Homo sapiens: one gene and its partners. The protein of the gene in region 3 purifies or fractionates together with the protein of the main gene of each other region. This does not show direct contact. Each region holds a gene or a part of one and is shown on either strand. Other genes may lie near its edges. The genes, in order: THUMPD3, NUDT12 and CTNND2.

What was found.
Region 1: the proteins of CTNND2 (region 3) and THUMPD3 purify together in Homo sapiens (affinity purification with mass spectrometry; one large-scale study listed by BioGRID and IntAct). This does not show direct contact.
Region 2: the proteins of CTNND2 (region 3) and NUDT12 purify together in Homo sapiens (affinity purification with mass spectrometry; one large-scale study listed by BioGRID and IntAct). This does not show direct contact.

What each region holds. Positions count from the first base shown.
Region 1 is NC_000003.12:9,366,049-9,369,710, forward strand, and holds part of THUMPD3 (tRNA (guanine(6)-N(2))-methyltransferase THUMP3), read left to right. Parts: intron 1-859; coding exon 860-937; intron 938-3,662. UniProt on the Homo sapiens protein: Catalytic subunit of the THUMPD3-TRM112 methyltransferase complex, that specifically mediates the S-adenosyl-L-methionine-dependent N(2)-methylation of guanosine nucleotide at position 6 (m2G6) in tRNAs.
Region 2 is NC_000005.10:103,550,567-103,552,945, forward strand, and holds part of NUDT12 (NAD-capped RNA hydrolase NUDT12), read right to left. Parts: intron 1,851-2,379; coding exon 1,651-1,850; intron 406-1,650; coding exon 295-405; 3' UTR 1-294. UniProt on the Homo sapiens protein: mRNA decapping enzyme that specifically removes the nicotinamide adenine dinucleotide (NAD) cap from a subset of mRNAs by hydrolyzing the diphosphate linkage to produce nicotinamide mononucleotide (NMN) and 5' monophosphate mRNA.
Region 3 is NC_000005.10:11,894,411-11,898,072, forward strand, and holds part of CTNND2 (catenin delta-2), read right to left. Parts: intron 1-3,662. UniProt on the Homo sapiens protein: Has a critical role in neuronal development, particularly in the formation and/or maintenance of dendritic spines and synapses. Involved in the regulation of Wnt signaling.

The DNA of each region.
Region 1 (3,662 bases), on a different chromosome or scaffold from region 3:
GGATTGAATTCACCAGAAAGAATACTGTTCAACTTAAGAAATTCTCTAAGTATCTCAGTATTTATTTACTTCAGCATATAGCAGATGTTTAACCTTTGGTGATGAAACATAAAAGAGATTTTCCTTTTAATTTGCATCAAAAATTCTTGCTCAGAAGTAATTAGGACTCACTCAAGGTAAAAAGTGAAGGTCAGAAAACTGCAATCTCACTATCATAAAGCTGATATATCTCATTACCACATAAGCAGTGAGAGGGCAAGGATTGTTGTCTATTTTTTTTTCCACCAATATATCCCACGCTCTTAGTGTCTGGCATATAGTAGGTACCCAGAAAATATCTGTGGGATGAATTGGTAAGCAAATGTTTTCCATCCAATATTTTAGCCAATACCCTCAGCAGCTTTGTGAAGATAGGCACTATTATTATCCTCATTAATCATTAGGCTTAGGACACATAAATAATTTCCCCAGGGCCACTCAGCTAGTAATCACAGAACTGGAGCTCAAATCCCCTGCTTTTAACCATTGCAGCATACAGTGTACCCTAGAAAGTCATCGAGGAAATATGATACAGCCCACCTGAGTGGCTTCACCTTTCTCTTCTCCCACAAAAGACGTGTTGCCCACAAAACACTTCATGCTTCTCTCTTTCCATCTGCCCTTTTTCCCTTTCTCTAGGGGAAAGCTGATTAGTAACCAAAGAGATGAGAAACTAGGGAGATGGGACATTTTAAAAATACAAAATATAGTTAGTAGCTGCTTTAAAACTATCATTCCTAATTTTTTAAATACTTAATTGTTGATAGCTTGTGCTGTTCAAAAGCTTTCTCAGAAATGTGTTTCTTTTTTTTTCACCCAGGTTCATTGTCTGAGATCAGTTGATAACTTATTTGTGGTGGTTCAGGAGTTTCAAGATTACCAGTTCAAACAAACAAAGGTGAGCTATCCTAAACATGGTGGCTGATTTTTGGCTGTCTTCCACAAAGAGATTATTTCCATTTTTCATAGTCTGTGAAAGTTTAGCATTACTGTAGTCTTTGTAATAGAGAATACTGGGAGGCTTTTACAGTAAAATCTAGAGTTTTGCTGACAGTCTATCCCAAAAGATGTTTTTTGAAAATTAGTATTGAAAACCATTAAAGTTTATAAGAAAGAAGAAAACACCTTGTTTTACTTGTAAGAGATATAAACCTTAGATTTGCTTTGCTTTTACATATATTTAGTTCCAAAAGAGAATTGCTTCCAGAACATGAACCAAAGAACAAGTGACAGTTTGTGTCTTCTACAAATAACACTTCCTCACCATCCTGCTTTTGCTCTGCTTTCTTCTCTTTCTTCATTTTTTGAAATAAAGCCAAAATAACATCTAAATACTCCTTCAGTTGTTAGGACAACAGCTTTGTCTCCAATATGTATTTAGCATCTGAATCCTAAATATTCAGCTGCTGCCTAAGCTGAAGGTTGAAAATAGATTGCAGCAAGGCTTTAGGTTTTTTCCACACTGCTTTTTGGTTAGGTTTCTAGAGTTAACCGCTTAAAAACATTTTTCTATCAGTTTTACGTATCTTAGAAATAATCTTTTTAAAAACAACTGTGATACGCTACCTAATTGTCTAACTTTTATTTATTGGCAAGCATGTTGATTTCCAAAACGTTATTCAAAAACGAGTCAAAGTTGTATGAACCCTCAGCCTAGAAAACAATAAGACCAGACCTAAAAGAAGTCAGACTTAAGGGCCTGGCGTGGTGGCTCACACCTGTAATCCCAGCACTTTGGGAGGCCGAGGCGGGTGGATCATGAGGTCAGGAGATCGAGACCATCCTGGCTAACACGGTGAAACCCCGTCTCTACTAAAAATATAAAAAATTAGCCGGGCGTAGTGGTGGGCGCCTGTAGTCCCAGCTACTCAGGAGGCTGAGGCAGGAGAATGGCGTGAACCCGGGAGGCGGAGCTGGCAGTGAGCAGAGATCACACCACTGCACTCCAGCCTGGGCGACAGAGCGAGACTCCATCTCAAAAAAAAAAGTCAGACTGAAAATAGATAAAAATTGTATTAAGTAAAAATCTAACTTTTAGAAAAGCTTAAAGCAATTCTAATGAGTTCTCTTAAGTATTCAGATGATAATCATGAATTTATTAGTCCCCACCCCCCTCTTTTAAAAAATATTGAGATGGGGTCTCACTATGTTGCCCAGGCTGGTCTCAAACTTCTGGGCTCAAGTGATCCTCCCACTTAAGCCTCCCAAAGTGCTGGGATTACAGGTGTAAGCCATTGCACCTGGCCCCCATTCCCCACCTCCACCCGCGCATATTTTTTTTTTTTTTTTTTTTGAGACAGAGTCTTGCTCTGTTGCCTAGGCTGGAGTGCAGTGGCACAATCTCAGCCTACTGCAACCTCTGCCACCTGGGTTCAAGCGATTCTCCTGCCTCAGCCTCCCGAGTAGCTGGGACTATAGGCATATGCCACCATGCCCGGCTAATTTTTGTATTTTTAGTAGAGACGGGGTTTCAGCATCTTGGCCAGGCTGGTCTTGAACTCCTGACCTCGTGATCCACCTGTCTTGGCCTCTCAAAGTGCTGGGGTTACAGGCGTAAGCCACCGCGCCTGGCCTCCATCTGCCTTTTTAAAAGTATGAACAAATCTGTGATTTATATGGGTTTTTAAAGACTAGTTAATACATGTATTTGGAGCAAACTTGTAAAGACTGAATGGATATAGAGTGAAAAGTAAGTCTTTGTTCCTATATCCTCATGCTATGCAGCTCCCTCCCTGGAGGCAACAACTGTTAGCAATTTCTTGGGTATTATTCTGGAGATATTTTACGAATAAATGTATTTTATTTACACAAATGAAAGCATAGCATACATACTTTTCTGCGCTATGCTTTTTTTTCATATACAAGTTGAGTATCCCTTATCTGAAATACTCGGGACCAGAAATGTTTTGGATTTTTGTTTGTTTGTTTTTTGAAATATTCTGGGTTGGGCATGGTGGCTCACACCTGTAATCCCAGCACTTTGGGAAGCCAAAGCAGGTGAATCATGAGGTCAGGAGTTTGAGAGCAGCATGGCCAAGGTGGTGAAACACCATCTCTACTAAAAATACAAAAATTAGCCGGGTGCGGTGGCGGGCTTCTGTAATTCCAGCTACTCGGGAGGCTGAGGCAGGAGAATCACTTGAACCCGGGAGGCAGAAGTTGCAGTGAGCCGAGATCACGCCACTGCACTCTAGTCTGGGCAACAGAGCAAGACTCCGTCTCAAAAAAAAAAAAAAAAAAAAAAAAGAAAGAAATACTCTGAGGGTGGAACCTATGTATAAATAAATCCAAGATTCATTTGTTTCATATATACGTTATACGTATAGCTTGACGGTAATTTTATATGATTTTTAAAATAATTTATACATGAAACAAAGTTTGTGTACACTGAACCATCAGAAAGCAAAGGTGTCACTATCTCAGCTACCTGTGTGGCATCATGTTGGCACTTCAAAAAAATTTTAGGTTTTGGATTTTGGACTTTGAGATTAGGAATGTTCAACCTATATGTTGGAGATCCTGGCAGTATCATTGCTGGAATTGGCTGCGTATACTCCATTGTTTGGCTGTATAATAATTTAACCAGTCCCATTTTAGGGCATGAGGGTTTTTCACATTCTTTT
Region 2 (2,379 bases), about 92 Mb from region 3:
CTCTTATTAGAAAAATGGTTTTGTGAGATAAAACTGTGAAGGAAGAAAAGAAACCAAGAGAGAAAAAGTTCAGAGAAGACTGACCCAAATTTAACATAATCTGAGGCAATATTGTAAAAATGTGTAAAAATATGAATTTGTGATTAAGACAGAACACTTTGAAAATATTTCGAAAACCCAACATCGTATTTTGTGTTGTGACACTCTCAAGAGTACTGAATAATCTCTAATATCACTTGAGGAATGAGTGTTATTAGAAATTATTAAATAATACTCAAAGCTTAGTTCTTAGATTTAGAGATTAGGATTTATTCTAATCCAGTGTTTGATTAATTGATGTGCAATAGCTCGGCTTGGTGGCACAAAGAATGCCTGCTGCTTCCCTTTGGTCAGAACATCCAGGACCTAAAACACACCATAATAGAATGCATTAGGATTTCAAAGCTGTCATATTTAAATACTATTCCCATGTTTACATAATTCAATTAAAATGTGATGAGTTTTACAGTGAATAACAACAGTAGAAAGTGACAACATCCATATTTACATGCAAAGTTTTTTTTTTTTTGGAAACAAGGTCTTGCACTCTGCCACCCAGACTGGAGTTGCAGTGGTGGGATCATGGCTCATTGCAGCTTTGACTTCCTGGGCTCAGGCGATCCTCCTGCCACAGCCTCCCAAGTAGCTGGTACCATAGGTGCACCTGGCTAACTTTTTAAAAATTATCTGTAGAGACAGGGTCTCCCTATGTTGCCCAGGCTAGTCTCAAACTCCTGGGCTCAATCAAGCTTCCTGCCTTGGCCTTCCAAAGTTCTGGGATTACAGGTATAAGCCACCACGCCCCGCCTCAACATGCAAAATTTAGGACAGCATTTTTAATTGCTTCACTGAGTAAGTGATTCAGTTTCTAAAATGTTCCAGAAAGACACATTCCCTTATGAAAATGACATCACGAAAAAGCAAAATGTACGCTCCACACTTAATTTCTAAGCAAAGCCAACTTTTGAAACAGATTCTTTTTTATAAAATTCATAAGCAATAATCTAATTTCCATCTTTTAGGATTAAGCATAGAATAAAATTAATTTTATGCAGGCAAAGTCAGAAAGAATTTCAGGTCAGATGAGTAATTTATCTTTTAATATATTATTTAGGAATGACATTTTAGAAAGTTATTTTAAGTGTATGTTTATTATACAGTTATGTCATTCTTGTCCTTAAGTACATTTTAAAATGAATAAAAACTTTCTGAAAATTTTAAGCACTTACTGATGTTTTTTGAGAGCTACTTGTTTTAATGTTATAAACTAAAATATAAAATGTATAAGAATATTCCTGTTTCTCATCTATGAATTAATGTTTTTCTAAACCCACTGATAGGTATTATTATTTATGTGAAGGAATGGAATCTGAAACTCGAAATGGTACAGAATCATCTCTACTAGAAAAATCTCATAGAATAAGTTAATATAGATCACATTAGTGAAACATACTCCTCCTGTATGGAATTACTAATTACCATGTAATCCATGCATAATGAGAGGGCCAAAGGCATCATTCAACTTGCTGAAAATATGCATCCTTGCTCTGTGACCAAACCAATACAGTCAGGGAACAATCAATAGAAGAAGGAAATTAAATTGAACTTTACCTGTTCTCTAGTGAACCAGCGGGCATCCTCTATTTCATTCTTGTCAACTTTAATTTCTGTAGACACTGCTAGAGCTAAGCAACCAATCATTAAGGAGGAAGGCATTGGCCATGGTTGACAAGCAACATACTGAACATGGCCAACTTTGACTCCACTTTCCTCTTCTACTTCTCTCCTAACAGCATCTTCTATTGTCTCTCCTAATGAAATGGAGCAAAAGAACAAGTTGCTGATGAACATGCCCGGGACACTTTGTGTCCTGAATGGTTCAAACATCTGGAAATCACTTTGGACAGAAACCCAATGCAAATAATCAGAAAGCAGAAGCCTAAAACTAGACTGTAATTGAAGAAAACAATTTTTTTAAAGTACATGACCACATATAGAATATCAAAATGCCAACAATAAACTTTTCGTTTTTTTAAGGTACAAATTTGTCAGTTACATTTTAAAAATAATGATACCATCTAAAAATATCCAATACCTAATACTGGTTAAACACTATGCAAACACTTTATATCTTATCTCATGTATATATTGTCCACGAAATAGTTATAAATTACATGATTTTTACAAATAGCTCTTTCACACTAAAATTCTGAAACTTTTTTTTATTATGTTGTCAAACAATTATTGCAGGTAACTCTTTTCAGGTCATTACAAGATTACAAACTACATAAGATGAAATTTAATACTTTTTCTAAGCAATTATTTTCCTCTAGATGACTG
Region 3 (3,662 bases):
AATTCTTCCTTTAGGCAATAGCCAATAGCATGAAATGTAGCAATATCTTTACAACCACTATGGAAGTGGGCATTTTATAAACACATTAGTAACAAAATTCAGAGATTTAGTTTTATAGGCAAGAAAATCTTTTGACTCTAACTCTTACCCCCCACCATTACTGTATTTTTGAAGTGCATCAAAAGTTCCAGAGAATATATTTTATACTTAAATGTTTATTATGATTAAGCTTCCCAAAGCATTTTCACCTAAATTATCACAGCACATTCAACAAAGCCCTGTGAGTTTTTATCCCAAGGAACAAATGACAAAATAGGCAAAGATGCAAAGTCACAAGAGAAGGCAAGTGCCAAGCACGATTTAGATCCCAGAACTTGGCATCCTAAGGCAGTGGTCCCTCCAGGGTGCTGCAGTGTCTGTACCCAAAACCAACCCAAAGCAAGCAAAGAAACCTTGGTTCAGAAACCATTTTTGCCCCAAATGATGAACTAAGTGTTTGTTACATGCCTACTACTATCCTATGATTTGTGGATCAATTATTTTAAAAGATAGATTACCAGTATGGGGTGGGGCTGGGGAGAAGCATGGTCCTATGTGACCAGAGAGAAGGAGTGTGTGCCTGAGAGCAGGGGGAGAAGGTAGAAAATCATGTGTTTGCCTAAAAACAGTGTCCTGGCTCTTCCCAACGAACTTGAACTTGAGAAATGAGACATCCCTGAAGAACACACAGTCAAGTGCCAGAACCACACACAAAGCACTGCACCTGTGAGCCCCGGACTGCCACAAACACCTTGCCTTTTCACACAGTGATCCTGGAGTCTGTGCAGGTGCGTTTATGCTTCATGTGGGAAAAGCAAACGCCAGAATTACAGAAAAGCATCTGGCATCTGTATTATTTCGCAGTAGAAACAGCTAATGTGTGTTGTAATAGTGAATATACCACATACTCTGCTATGTATTTTAAGTCCATGGTCTCTTAATTCACCGTCGCAACAACCTGAAGACACAGGAATTATTGTTTCCCCTGTGTTATGACACTTAGTAGTAAAATAACCGTTCACTTAGAAAATGATGAAGTTGGGATATGAACTCAGTCAGTTGGGGTACAACTTTGAAGCTATTTTCTCAACCATTTGCTCCACTGCTGTATTTACTACTGGGACACACGAAATCAGCAAGCAGTAAAATGTTTCCTTAAAGAAGAACTCCTGTAGGACAAGTGAGTAAGTTTAACTTCAAGCTTTAGAATTATGCTCCCAAAATAGGAACCAATAAAATGATATATAAACTGTTAAGACATGACAGAGTGACATAATTACTATAGACAAACAATATAAATCAATTTTAAAAAAGGAAAATAGATAAATTGAGAAATGTGTATAAGATATAAAAAGATAATTCACAAAAAAATTAGACGTAGACACCAACAAATTAGAAAATATTTAACCTCAGGAATATTAATAGAGAAGCAAATGAATTAGAGAAAAACACAATATTTCTCCTATGTAATTAGAAGTTTTATTTTTCTCATTACAACACCCAGTGTTGTTGAAATCATGGGAAAATTTGTACACTCCTGCCTTGCTGAGAGAAATATAAATTATATAATCTTCCTGGAAGACAAATGAACAACATATATCAACAACCTTGAAAACATCCAGTTCTAGGAAGTAATCTAGAGTAAATAACCTGATGACAACTATTTAGTTATTAGGATCTTAATTACAGCATTAAATATAACTACCAAAAATGAAAATGTCATCAATCTCCAATAACAGAGTGATGTAAGTAAATAATGTTATATAAAGGTATGGAAAACAGACACTAAAAATAAATACTAATTACATGAGATGTTAATAGGTAACTAAACAGAATATGAGCAATGTTTTCTAAATTTAAAAATGTGTATCGCTTGATATCTCTGCTAAAAATATGGTCATTTCTGGGGCTTGCAACCATGCATGAATTTTAACTTCTTTTAATCATTTCTGTATTTTTGAATTTTCAATGAGCATGCACTACTTTTGAAAACAAACAAATCTCAAATTTAAAGGCGAGAAAATGTAAGTATGGCTGATCAAAATCTGTGTAATCTACATTCCATGATGAATGACCTTTGTTAACTTTAAGTCATGCATTCAGCTAATTAATGAACTTCACCCCAAAATAAATATATACTATTCTTTTCAAGAATGGAAAGGCATGCTTTTCTTCTGCATAATGTAATATATATATTAAACTATGATATATTTAGTGGAAAAGTAATATATAAAGAACAAAACTCTTGAAACCCTGACATAAACACTGTGTTCTCAGTGTTCTCACATTTGGGAGTGGGTATGTGTGCTGGGTATCACATTCAATATAGTTATTTGCCTTGATTATCTTCTTAGCTTTAGTATTATGAATAGTTCTCATATAATTAGCTACTCTGAAACTATAATTCATAATTGCATATTTCTTTGGCTAGAGGTGCCATAATATATCTATGCACCTGCTATGAATTTAACATTACTCTTTTTCAACCTGAGTTAAGCAACACAAATAATCTGATCCAGATGCTACAAGCCCCAGCCTTCCTGCATCAACCTTCCATGTCCTGGGTTAATGAGACAATTTGTACTATCTCTGAGACTTTTTATATAACACCTGTCTGTCTTTCTGGAGGATTCTTCTTCCTTATTTGGTTTCCCCATGACCCCAAGAACAATGCTCCACACCAGTGAAGACTGTGTTAGAGATGAGAGATTGAACTGTGGCTCTTTTACATTTGGAGCTACCAAAGAGGTTGCTCTTTCTGGAAATTACATTATTGTATACTGTTGAAGGTAATGACTGCTATATTAGTCTAATATTTGAAAGTCCAAATAAAATATGTGACAGAGGATAAAATTTGTTTTAAAAAGTGAGCATTTTTAGATTGAGTAGTCATGCTTAGACTTAAATACAACATCGTATCTATTTAGAAAAGCAATGTTTATCTTCTTTCTTTACTGTGTCCATGATTTCTCCTATTAATTGCAAAACATCAAACAGCCACCAAAATCTAATTATTTATACTGAGGCAGAAAAAGCTGTGGAAAATAGCTAGCCTAGATCACTTATATATGGTTTGGGAAGTCAGATTTTAACATCATCTTTTTTATGTCTAATTCTCACCACTTACAAAGCGATCCAATTATTGGCAGTTAAAGAATAACATGAAAAATAGGGGAAGAACGCCAAGGGTAAGTTATTTTAAAGTTGGCTATACATAAATCTGCTGAATTTCATGGACCATAGTTGCTACAAATCAACCAGGGCATTAGACGCTACCTTGATAACTCTTGATGTAGTGTCAAAATACCATGAAATATTTAAAGAGCTCAACTACCAAGCAAAGTACTGTGAAAGCTACTATATCCAGAATTCTATCAACTAGAATTCTTCATAAACCATGCCAATGGGGAACACTTCTTCTCTATTCTGATATTTCCTTTCAGGCAAAGGGAACTTAATTAATGTAACACTGCTGGCCTCTCTCCAGCTTTTCACTTTCTCTGCCTCTGAAGAATAAAGAAGCAGCTTGCCTTGCTGCTTCTCTCTTCCTCTGGAGATCATCCTCCCTGCAGAGAGCAAGGCTTGGCTCTGCCAGCTCAGAAAAAGCTCTGTCCCTGTGGGGA